Linked DNA regions of Homo sapiens: regions 2 and 3 are each linked to region 1. Evidence: fine-mapped expression QTL. A gene starts in region 1. Each other region holds a variant in brackets. All regions are shown on one strand. Distances are between the middles of the regions. Region 1 holds the start of NAA40 (N-alpha-acetyltransferase 40, NatD catalytic subunit). Region 2 overlaps NAA40 (N-alpha-acetyltransferase 40, NatD catalytic subunit). Region 3 overlaps MARK2 (microtubule affinity regulating kinase 2).

Evidence for each region. PIP is the estimated chance that this variant, and not a neighbour inherited with it, causes the effect.
Region 2: its variant is the best candidate, but not a certain one, in a credible set for the expression of NAA40 in whole blood (TOPMed, PIP 0.60).
Region 3: its variant is the best candidate, but not a certain one, in a credible set for the expression of NAA40 in whole blood (TOPMed, PIP 0.79).

What each region holds. Positions count from the first base shown.
Region 1 is chr11:63,936,856-63,940,921 of GRCh38, reverse strand. NAA40 (N-alpha-acetyltransferase 40, NatD catalytic subunit) reads right to left here and starts at 1,920. Exons shown (of 8, transcript NM_024771.4): 1 at 1,820-1,920. The coding sequence starts at 1,825. RefSeq lists silencers at 1,814-1,999, 1,929-2,008, 2,269-2,318 and enhancers at 2,039-2,178, 2,417-2,917.
Region 2 is chr11:63,956,958-63,961,023 of GRCh38, reverse strand. It overlaps NAA40 (N-alpha-acetyltransferase 40, NatD catalytic subunit), which reads right to left. Exons shown (of 8, transcript NM_024771.4): 8 at 3,705-4,066. Among named protein-coding and RNA genes, the nearest start is that of COX8A, 16 kb to the left of the region's middle. The variant T/A (reference allele first, on the strand shown) is at 1,887.
Region 3 is chr11:63,895,470-63,899,535 of GRCh38, reverse strand. MARK2 (microtubule affinity regulating kinase 2) reads right to left here. Exons shown (of 19, transcript NM_001039469.3): 3 at 3,903-3,956; 4 at 1,256-1,304; 5 at 863-928; 6 at 703-773; 7 at 428-484. Among named protein-coding and RNA genes, the nearest start is that of RCOR2, 20 kb to the left of the region's middle. The variant C/A (reference allele first, on the strand shown) is at 2,126.

The DNA.
Region 1 (4,066 bases):
CAGGTTTCATTTAGTTTCAACAATGGCTGTGTCTAGGACCTTTCACCAAAATTTAGGTTAAATATGCCTAAGGTCTCTAGACTTGGTTTTCTACATATGAAGTACGTAATACCCAAAACTATTTGTTAAAACACGATGACTGTTTTGACACGGATTAGACAACTATTTTTGTCTAATAAGTTGATTTGTTCAGTCGATAAATAGTGGAGTGACGGGAAAAAAAAAAACTAGGTTAACAACAGTAGGGACAAACCCAATGGGTTAAAAATAGCACAAATCCATTTTAGATCAGTAAAGTTAAGGCTGAGGATACAGACAAAAATAACAGCCACTACTTAGGAGACACCTCCTTAGCAATCTACATCCATTATCTCACTTAATCTTCACTACTACCCTAAGGGGGAGGTATTAGCATCCCAATTACAGAGGTGAGGAAATTCAAACACATAAAGGCCAACTCACTGGCACACTATTATACCACCAGCAGCGAAGACGGGGCTGGAAGTGAGGTACCTCGGGCTCCAAAGTCAGGGTTCCCTTAAGGTGATGGAAATTCCATGTAAATACTAATATAGGCCTGTGTGGTGGCTCACGCCTGTAATCCCAGCACTTTGGGAGGCCTAGGCGGGTGAATCACGAGGTCAGGAGTTCGAGACCAGCCTGGCCAACGTGGTGAAACCCTGTCTCTACTAAAAATACAAAAATGAGCCGGGCATAGTAGCGGGCGCCTGTAATCCCAGCTGCTGGGGAGGCTGAGGCAGGAGAACCGCTTGAACCCAGAAGAAGGAGGATGCAGTGAGCCGAGATCGCGCCATTGCACTCCAGCTTCGGCGACAAGAGCAAAACTCCATATCAAAAAAAAAAAAAAAAAAAAAAAAAAAGAATACAGCCAATACTAGGAAAAGCGTTATCTTTTTAGGAGGGTGACTGATACTGCTGTAATTGAGACTTAGTAAGGTGAACGCACAGAAACTTGCAAATAACTTCTGCCCTACCCTATATCCCGGGAAAGTAAACTAAAATGCACCTCCAGGCTGCCGGCACGGAACAAGTGGTCAATATCCATCCGCGGCTGGGCCGCCGCCCCCGCCTCCCCGCATCTTCCCCGCACACCTGCACAGCCCTCCCCTTGCAAAAAACACCTGCACTACCAAAACCCCTAACAACCCAAGCGGTCGTAAGAACCATTTCATTGCAACCAGGAGGCGTCGAAGGCAGGAGTCTATGGGAAAGGAAGGCTGTGTTTATCAGGAGCAGCAGGAACCTGGTGGAGAGGTTTCGAAAGAGTGTAGGGGAACCGGCTTCGCTGAGACTCGAGTAACGGGAAGGGCAGTGGACTGGGATTCGGGAGGCCCAAGGTGGGGTCTGACGCCCCCGACAATATGACCTTGGCTAGGCGCCTTCTTTCCTCTGGGCCTCAATTCCCTCCAAGCCAGGGTTGACCTCGGATGTGAAAAGCGACGAAGCTGGTGACAGCCAGGTGATGAGTGACCCTGGGGGAGCGGGAAGCTAACCCCAGGGTCCCCGCGGGGGACGGTGGTGGGGAGGCCAGTAACGGGTCCGCGAAGCAGGAAGGGGCGGGCGTGACGCTGGGGGCGCCGAGGGGGTGGGGCCCCGGACCAGGGGCTCTCCAGAGGATTCCCGGGCTAGGCCTAGCGTAGGGACCCTTAGAATGGGGGAGTCGGGTCATGTGGGGGTCAGGGGTCACGTGAGGCTGGAGGGGGTCGGGGTCACGTGAGAGGGGGGTTTAAGAACAAAGGGGGCGAGGGTAGCGAGGAGCGCCCCTGGACCTCCCATCTCCTCTCTCTGCCTCACTCACCCCCATAGCGGCGGCGACAACGCTCAGCTTCTTCTTCACACACTTGCCGGCAGGGAGGCGGCAACGGCGGTGGCTGCAACAGCGGCGGCAGCAGAGCGGACGGCCCTGCAACGCGCATGCGCCTCGCAGCTTCCCCCCCCCCCCCCGCCCAACCGCGCGCCCTCGTACCGCGCCGGCGCAGAACCGGCGCAGGGCAGCGGTGAGCCGGCGCGCAGGTGGAGCGCCCGCTAGGCTGGCCGAGGGTCTCCGACCAGGAGGAGGCGGGAGCGCGGAGGAGCGTCGCGCCGGGAATGACGTGCGGCCAGAGCCCGCCCCCTCGCAGGGCTGCGTCTGTAACTATGGCAACGGCGGCGCCAGGCCTGGCTGCTCACCCAGGCCGTGAGTCGCGCGCCGCTGGGGGCCGGGTGGTTGGCAGCACCTCCCCTGCGGCCAGCGACTCCTTGGCCCCGCGCGTAGCAGCCGGCGGCACAGCCACCTTCCCAGGCGGCCAATCGCGTCTCGACCTCTAAAGTACCTGCCCCTCCAGAGCCCTAGCGCGCGTAGCGGAAGTCTTTGGAAACTTTCCCACCTTCCAGATCTTGACTCTTGAAATTCCTTTTCTAACCAGAGTCCTGTTACTCATTCATTCGTCTTCTAACCATTCATTCCCCCTCATTCATTCACGTTCTCAATAAAAATTAACTCGCATCTACGCGGTGCTGAGCCCAGGGGGCACAGAGAGGAGCGAGGTGCCATCTCAGCGCCACACCTCAGGGTTTAGAGGGGAGACGGGCACGTAAGCACTGTTTAGGAGAGAGTGGACAGTGCTGTTAGCGTGAACACCAGGCATCCCGGAAAGTTTTAATTTCAACCCATCCCCAGCACACCGGAGTGACCCGCACGTGACCCGAATCCAAACCGCCGGGGGCGCTTCCGCAGTGTGCACACCTCTGCCAACCTCCCCCAGAATCTCCAGGGGTGGAGCCAGAGTCTTCACTTCCTAGTGCTCCCCAGGTAGGGAGCGAAAATTAGTGAAATGCTTCAAGACGAAAATTAGTGAAATGCTGCCCAACACTTAAGCTTCATGGACTTTTTCAGGTTTTGCTCATTATTCCATCTTTTTGTTTTTTTAAGAGACAGGGTCTCGCGGTCGCCCAGGCTGGAGTGCAGTGGTGCAATCACAGCTCACTGCAGCCTCGACCTCCTGGGCTCAAGCGATCCTCCCGCCTCAGCCTCCTGAGTAGCTGGGACTACAGGTGTGCACTACCATACGCAGCTCAATTTTTATTTATTTTTTGTTGAGATGGGGTCTCACTGTGTTACACAGACTGGTCCCAAACTCCTGGGCCCAAGCGATCCTCCCACTTTGGCCTCCCAAAGTGCTAGGATTACAGGCGTCAGCCACTGTGCTTAGCCTCATTATTCCAACTTTAGTGCTCAGTACAGTGGTGGCCTCAACAACATTTATCCAGTGCCTACTGTATGCTAGGCACTGTTCCAAGCAGCAAGGAAAACAACAATAAGAAACAGAATAGGCACCACCCTTGTATCCTAGAAGGAGGAGACCGATAATAGATGAAATAAATAGGTAATATACATAGTTAGTTAAATGATACAGGCTCGGCCGGGCGCGGTGGCTCACGCCTGTAATCCCAGCACTTTGGGAGGTAGAGGCGGGCGGATCACGAGGTCAGGAGATCGAGACCATCCTGGCTAACACAGCGAAACCCCGTCTCTACTAAAAAAATACAAAAAATTAGCCGGGCAGGGTGGCGGGCACCTGTAGTCCCAGCTACTCGGGAGGCTGAGGCAGGAGAATGGCGTGAACCCGGGAGGCGGAGCTTGCAGTGAGCCGAGATTGTGCCACTGCACTCCAGCCTGGGCGACAGAGAGAGTCTCAAAAAAAAAAAAAAATGATACAGGCTCTAGAAGGAAGAAAAAGCAGGGAGAGAGCACAGGGAAGGTCAAGATTTATAGTTGTGGCCTGGCGCAGTGCCTCACACCTGTAATCCCAACACTTTAGGAGGCTGAGATGGGCGGACTGCTTGAGCTCACGACTTTGAGACCAGCCTGGGCAACAGAGTAAGATCCTGTCTCTGCAAAAAAATTTAAAAATAAAAAAAAATTAGCCAGGCGTGGTGGCGTGTACTTGTGGTCCCAGCTACTCTGGAGGCTGAGGTTAGAGGATTGCTTGAGCCCGGGAGGTGAAGGTTGCAGTGAGCCGATAGCGCCACTGAACTCCAGCCTGGGTAACAGAGCCAGACTCGG
Region 2 (4,066 bases), 20 kb before region 1:
AGCCATCCTGTATCAGAGCATGACCCCAGAGAGGTGCAGGGCCTGGCTTTCAACAGCCAAATCAGCCACAGCTGGCTCTCACCCTGCTCCCGATCTCCCAGCTGTGGCCTACCAAGCCCTGCTCTGAGTCAAACAGCCTCCACCCCTTAGGGGGCTCCCAGCCTGGTCCCATTTCTCAGGGCCTCCTCCCTCCAGCACTGGGGTGGCCTGCACTAAGCACCAGCGCCACATGATGTGACCTCAGCCCCAGCCCTGCCAGTCCGTAGGGACTATTAAATGTTCACCTTAATAGAATTAACACTCCACAGCAGGGCCAGGCTTGGGAGCTCACGCCTGTAATCCCAGCACTTTGGGAGGCCGAGGTGGGTGGATCACCTGAGCTCAGGAGTTTGAGACCAGCCTGGCTAACATGGTGAAACCTTCTCTCTACTAAAAATACAAAAATTAGCTGGGTGTGATGGCGTATGCCTGCAGTCTCAGCTACTCAGGAGGCTGAAGTGGGAGGATCACCTGAGCCCAGGAGGTTGAGGCTGCAGTGAGCTGATTGTGCCACTGCACTCCAGCCTGGTGACAGAGATCTTGTCTCAAAAAAACAAACAAACAAAGAAAACAACCCACAGCAGACTCCTAAAGCCCCAATACAGGTTCTAAGGTTCTCTTTGCTCACTTCAGCATAGTAGGAATCCAGGAACGTAGATGGAATCACAGAAACCGACATCCTGTCCAGGGCAGCACTGCATAATACCCTGGCATTGCAGGCCAGAAGCAGGAGACACCACCCTTGTCCCCAGCACCAGGAGTAGCAAGGTGGGGCAGGAGAGGCCTCTGGGGCCCATAGCTCCTGCTCAGGAAGAAGCTGGGCCTCTCACAGTCGCCGTGGGGCAAGGCAGCATAGGGAGGGAAGGGACCTAGTCAGGTACACAGCTGTGGGTGTCCTTGGCTTGCTCCTGTCTTTTCTTTCCCAAGCTGCAGGTTACCTAACTGTGAAACGGGGATAACACCTCCTACGCTGTGTTCAAATCTTGGCTCTGCCATTTACTACTGGGCCCATGAGCAAGTTACTTTTCACTCTCCATTTATCTTTTTGAGAGAGTCTTGCTTTGTCGCCCAGGCTGGAGTGCGGTGGGGCAATCTCGGCTCACTGCAGCCTCTGCTTTCCAAGTAGCTGCGATTACAAGCACACATCACCATACTAAGCTAATTTTTTTTTCTTTTTTTGAGATGGAGTCTCGCTTCTTCGCCCAGGCTGGAGTATCTGGCACAATCTTGGCTCACTGCAACCTCCGCCTCCCGGGTTCAAGCGATTCTCCACCACGTGCCACCACGCCTGGCTAATTTTTGTATTTTTAGTAGAGACGGGTTCACCATGTTGGCCAGGATGGTCTCGATCGCTTCACCTCGTGATCTGCCTGCCTCAGCCTCCCAAAGGGCTGGGATAACAGGTGTGAGCCACTGTGTCCAACCTAATTTTTTGAGACGGAGTCTCACTGTCACCAGGCTGGAGCACAATGGCGTGATCTCGGCTCACTGCAACCTCCGCCTCCCAGGTTCAAGCGATTCTCCTGTCTCAGCCTCCCAAGTAGCTGGGAACACAGGCATGCGCCACCAAGCCCAGCTAATTTTTATGTTTTTAGTAAAGACGGGATTTCACCCTGTTGGCCAGGATGGTCTCGATCTCCTGACCTCGTGATCCACCCGCCTCGGCCTCCCAAAGTGCTGGGATTACAGGAGTGAGCCACCGCGCCCAGCCTAATTTTTTTATTTTTAGTAGAGACAGGGCTTCACCATGTTGCCCAGGTTGGTCTCGAACTTCTGGCCTCAAGTGATCTGCCTGCCTAGGCCTCCCAAAGTGCTGAGATTACAGGCGTAAGACACAATGACTGCAA[T/A]TTTTTTTTTTTTTTTTAAGAACAGGGTCTTGTTTGCTCTGTCACTCAGGCTGGAGTGCAGTGGCACAATCATAGCTCACTGCAGCCTCAGACTCCTAGGCTCAGGCAATCCTCCCGCCTCAGACTCTCAAGTAGCTGGGATTATAGGTGCCTGCCACCAGGCCCAACTAATCAAAAAATATATTTTTTTAGAGACAGGGTCTCACTATGTTGCCCAGCCTGGTCTCAAACTCCTGGCCTAAAGCAATCCTCCCACCTCAGCTTCCCAAAGTGCTGGGGCTCTAGGCGTGAGCCATGGCGCTGGCAATTTATCCTTAGATTGGGAGTAACACCACCACATTAGTTCACCAGGCTCCACAGCAACACATCCCCTCTCCCCAGACCCCGTCTGTCCTCAGGGGTATAGAACAACCTCTGCTGCACTTGGGGAGGGAGTATTCTAGCCAAAACTAGAAAAGCCTGCCCCCTAGTTTGAACTACCTTCAAAGCTGGCGGCAGAAACCATCTGGTGAGTGGCGTCCCTCCCGCTGGGGACATAGTCCCTTTCAGTCCAGCCCAGGCTCTGGACTGTCTACTGCTCAGCGGTGGTGCCTCTTGCTCCGCCTGCCCACTGAAGCTGTGGCAGCAGCATGGGGCAGACCCAGAAGTCACACCACACCTCACTGAAGCAGCCACTGTGGAGGGCCCAGGCCATTGTGAAGGTGGAGAAGGAGGAGGAATGGGTGCAGACCTCAACTCTCCCTGCACTCAGCCGGCAGGGATGAAGGAATGGCCCCAAGCTCTCCAACTGTGGCCATTCACCCTTCAGCAAGGGGATGGCCATTCCAGGAAGTTTCTGCCTGGGATGAAAACACAGCCTTCAAGGAACAAATAACTTGAGGGGCAGAATTCTGTCACATGGGAAACTGGCCATGTGATTCGCCAGGCAAATTGCTCTCCCTTCCCAAGGGCTGTGCTGCCTTTCTTTGGGCCTCAAAGATAAGACAGCTGCACAAACCACCTGCGGGTGTGCCCCTGCCCACAGGGGAGAGGCCACAACATGCCACAGCTGGGACCCACGGAACAGGTATAACCCTGGCTCCTCTTTCCCCAGATGCTTGCTCTGCCAGGGCACGAACACTCCATGTGGATCAGGGTCTCCTGCTCCCCGTTCCAGCAGATGCAGACCACCAAGCAGAGTACAATGGGGCAGCCCCTCCACTGTCCACAGAAAGTACTGAGCTCCAGCTCCCCCGGGCCAGGGCTGGCAGGAGCCCTGCTTGGGGAACAACCTGCACAGCTCCATCTGTCACACTAGGGGGTCACAGCCTCCACCAGCTCATAACTCTCCTGCCCCAGCAGCCCTGACATGAGCTCCCCTTCCTTGGAGCCTTGTCTTCTGTGAATGGATGGAAGAGGGCAGGAATCTTAAGAGACAAAGAATATTTTGAGTAACCCAATGAAGTCAAAGAGGAAAGAAGCACTCTCGTCTATTCACCTCCCACACATGGGCACTGGAATTTACGTTTGGACACAGATTTCAAATGTCACAAGGCCTGGCTTGGGACTTTCTCTCCAAGATGCAAAGCAGGCGCCCTTCAGAACACCTTTGGCCTCTACTCAGAACTCCTGGGAAGTGGCACAAACACATACATTTGGTCTCTGTTCCCAGCTCTGGCTGCTTGCCCCGGACAGCCTGAGTTTTTTCTCCAGCATGGGGCTATCATAGCTATGCACCTCCTGATGTTCGGGCCCAATGTTGGGACAGGCTCAGGGTCCAGAGCTTCCCAGATCCACGCTGCCCATGGTGCCCCAGCATCAGGAAGCCATCTCAGCAGCTGACCAAAGTGTCTTTTATTTGTGACATACAAATACAACCAATGCAAGAAGAGATCACTTTTTCCCTTTGATTCCAGTGATAACAAGCTGCTAAAGAAAAAAAAAAATATATATATATATATATATATCAAGGAGTTTATCTTCCAAATTTCCTCTTAAAAAAAAATTAAAAAGAACCATTCACATGTCCTATACATACTTGACACCAACAAAAATAACCTGAAATAGGGTGGATATAACTAAAATTTTAAAAATCTTAAAAAAATCTTAACATGCTCCAAACAAACAAACAAAACACAAAAAGCCTGGTAAAAAAGGCCTGCTATGTTTCTCTTTTTTTTTTTTTTGAGATGGAGTCTCAC
Region 3 (4,066 bases), 41 kb after region 1:
GTATCTTGGTGATGGAGATGGTATGTGTGTGCCTGCCTGCAAAGCAGCTGGGATACAGCTGTGGAACTTTCAGCACTCTTCCCTGGGTCAGCTACCAGGTTGCCTGAAAGACTGAGAAAGCCTGGAGTGTGCCTGCCTTGCTTGGCAGCACTAAAAGGTGATGTGCCAAGAGGTGAAATGGCAGAGGGCCCCTGCTCAAGGGCTAGAATGGAACCCGAGGTCCAGCCACAAGGCCTCTATCAGAGGCAGCCCTAGGGGCTTTCTGGTCATCTCAAAAAAAAAAAAAGAAAGAAAGAAAGAAAAAAAGAAAGGCTGGAGTTTCCTGGAACACTCAGGGCCTGATGGTTATTGATGGTTTTATCATGGAGAACCAAGAGGCAACAACCTGGCTCCCACTCAAAGGCACAAGGAGAAGTGCATGCCTTACCTTTAAGTCTCTATGGACAATAAACTTCTGGTGACAGTACTGCACAGCAGACACTATCTGAAAGGAAGGAAGAAGGGTTAACCCAGGGGTGCCTGAGGGTGGGCCACAGGGGCTGACAGAGCAGTGACCCTGTGACTTAGTGCTAACCTGCCACACGGATAAGCAGAGCCCAAAGTACCCTCCAAGGGCCACTTACAGACAGGCAGCTTATCCTTACATGTCAAACCCCAAAAGCAGAGGTCAGGCCTAGCTCCTATGGAGGGAGTCACACCTACCTGGCGGAATTTGGCTCGAGCCTCTTTTTCTTTCATCCTGCCATGAGCCACTAGGTAATCAAATACCTCTCCTGTAAGAGACCAGGCAGGGATCTCAGTCAGAGCTGGCTGGAGGTGGAAGAAGTGGGGGCACAACAGGAAGAGGCAGTTCCACACCTACCGCCACTAGCGTACTCCATGACAAGGTAGAGCGTTTTCTCAGTCTCAATCACTTCAAATAATTTAACTACAAGAGAAAAGGCCAAGCCTTAAGTCAAGAAGCAACAGGGGCCACATACTGCTCTCCAACATGTCCAGGAGCATCCTAGGAACGAAAGTCTCCCCTCCTTTCATGATCCCCCACTCCCAAGAACAAGTTCCTCTCATGCCAGCCAAACTGCTAAAGACAGCCCAGTGTGCCAGAAGGGGAGATGGATTTTGAGCTGAGCTTCCCCAGGGGTATCCTTGAAGACTGCAGACTCCAGAAGGCAGTGCACCTCGGGGAGAAGATGACATGCTGGAAAGCAGTGCCTTGCTGTTGGGGAAGAAGAAAGAAATAACAACTTGTGCTCACCTATGTTGGGATGATTCAAAACCTTCATTATTCTTACTTCGCGGAATAGCTGGAAGATAAAATACCAGGGGTCATGCCTGCCCAACTTGCTCCCATCAGGTCTCTCCAAACAGTCCCTGCCAGGATTTGTTTTTCCCAAAAAACCAAAACCGGGCAGGGAAAAGAAAATAGGGTGGTTGTCTAGCTCATGCACGGCCTTCCCTGTGGCTGGGAAGTTGGGGAAGCTGGAGGAGGGCTGGCTGTGGGGACGTGCTACCCGGGATGGCATCAGGATGAGCCAGCCATGCCCTCTGCTGCGTCTACCAAATCCAGCCCCAAAACAGCAGGCAGGTTTTGGCTGGGTGCCTCTACTGGAGGGAGTGTGAGCCCGTGTGCGTGAATATTCAGAATCCGAGCTGCTGCCTTGGTTCAGTGACAGTACACACCCCAGCTTGGTCTGTGTAAAGGGGTGGTAGAGCACCAGAGGGGGACCCCATCATTTTCTGATTTACAGTAGTCAGAGGGCTCTGTTCTAGGGGATAGGCCTTTCCTTCCTGGGCCTCTAGGGTGGTGACAGAAGAAGCCACTCCTATATATAGCTGATGCCAATTTTAATCAAATCCACCTCCACACACTCACGCTCTCTTTGTGAAACAAAACCAGGGGCTCCAAACCATGTATTTCCATAAAGAAAGATGACAGAAATGAACTCCTTCCCCTCTGCGGGGGCCAGAGAACTGGAGGTGGGGCTTTTTGTAATTTCAGGCCTCATCACTTGCACAAAGAACAGAACTAGTTTTTGTTGTTGTTTTTGTTGGGGGTAGGGGAAGCCCTAATTCAAGATATGGTTTATGGAATAAAGTGAATACATTTGTTTCCCCTTTAATGATG[C/A]CCCAGAGCTTTCCTAAGCTAGAAAGGAAAAGAAGAAAAAGGCTTTCCAATCCTCAGGAACCCAATGCTGACCTTACCCTTTATTAGGGCCTAGGTTTTTCTTACTTTTTTCCCTGGTCCAACAGATATTTTGGATGGAGAGGCAAAAAGCCTGGATACCACCCTCTGGGGCAGTAATGGGGAGCAGCTCTGAAATAGGGCCAGAGGCAGCTGCCAGGGCTTCTTCCCCTGAGGCTGCTCACCTGGCATGGAAGTGACATTCTTCTGGGAGAACTTGGGGTTTTCTGGGCTTGTCTAGACCCCTGAGGGGGCTAGCTTCTTCAATGTTCATTTTTCAGGGATCATTGCTGAGATCACATTTTTGGCCAGAATCAGACTGGCTTTAGTAACAAAGAGTCTCAAAAGGTTTTGAAAATGGCTCTATTTGTCTGGTGTTGGTGCCTTCCAGAGAGTCAGGAAGAATTAGGGAGAAAACCAAGAAGAATTAGGGAGAAAAACAAGGTCAGGAATAAGATGGCTTGGTGGACTGGCGATTATTACGATGGCAGGCTAGACTGCTCCCAAGGCCAAATGGCCTACCCCACGCTGACTTCTTCTGTGGGGCTGGAGCCAGGATGTCATAAGCAGCCCTTTTTCCCTTCCTCCTGGAAAGCTTCAAGCAGAGACACCCTGATGATGACAACAATGTTTCTACTGAACTGAAGAACCCTTGAAGGGATCCCAGGGGTAACAATAAATAGGAAACACCTTGGTTCTGGCTATTTGCATGTCCGGAGAACAACTCATCCACTCTAATTCCATGAGCATCGCCCTCAACAACAATCCTCAGCCCTTACTCCTAAGGTTCCCAGTATCACTATCTGACTCTGTTAGCACGAATCATGCCTTCTCCTAACTCAACTGCCACAATATGCTTATGGAGAAAATATCTGATTTGCCACAAGATGAACAGAACTAGGTTTTGTTCAGAAAATTTGAGCTGGAGCTCATTCTCTAAAAGGTAGCTGGCACAGAACCCACCGGCAGGTTCCCTGCTTCCTCTTATTCTTGTATTTCTAAAGCCACTCCCCTGTATCATTCCAGATCTTGAAGTAGCTGCACGTGTTTCTAGTAGTGGCTACAAACATGTGTTTTTGCATAGGGCTGGCCACAAGCCAGAAGATAACAAGATGCAGGAAGTAGGTCAGACAGGTAGGCCAAGTGGCTGGGAATGAACAGAAAGACTTCACAAGAGCCAGTGCCTATGGCCAGGAAGCCCACTCAGGAGGAGTCACCACAGATGATCCAACCAAAGCCCCGAAGGTAGCAGAGCCATGGGAGGGAATGGTTGGGGGACGGTGAGCGAAATGGCCAGAAAATTTAAACTAGGAATTCAAGAGAAGGTCTAAATGGGGTCAGTAGATCATTGACCCCAGAAGAGAGATTTAGAAAGGGACAGGTGGGCTGGGGGCAGTGGTTCACGCCTATAATCCTAGCACTTTGGGAGGCCGAGGCGAGCGGATCACTTGAGGTCAGGAGTTCGAGACCAGCCTGGCTACCATGGTGAAACCCCATCTCTACTAAAAATACAAAACTTAGCCAGGTGTGGTGGCGGGTGCCTATAATCCCAGCTACTCGGGAGGCTGAGGCGGGAGAATCGCTTGAAACCAAAAGGCGGAGGTTGCAGTGAGCCGAGATCACACCATTGCACTCCAGCCTGGGCGACAAGAGTGAGGCTCTGACTCAAAAAAAAAAAAAAAAAAAAAAAAAAAAGGGACAGGAGGTGCCATGTGCTTACTTTCTGGAGGCTGGAGGAGTTCAGTTGAGTCTTGTCAATGATCTTCACAGCTACCTGAGGATGAGACAAAAAGGCCCCAAATCACTTCTCTGACCAGCGAAACCCAGGATTCCAATCTACTTCCTCCTTTATATTTCTTACTCCTTTTCATCCCACAGCTTTTT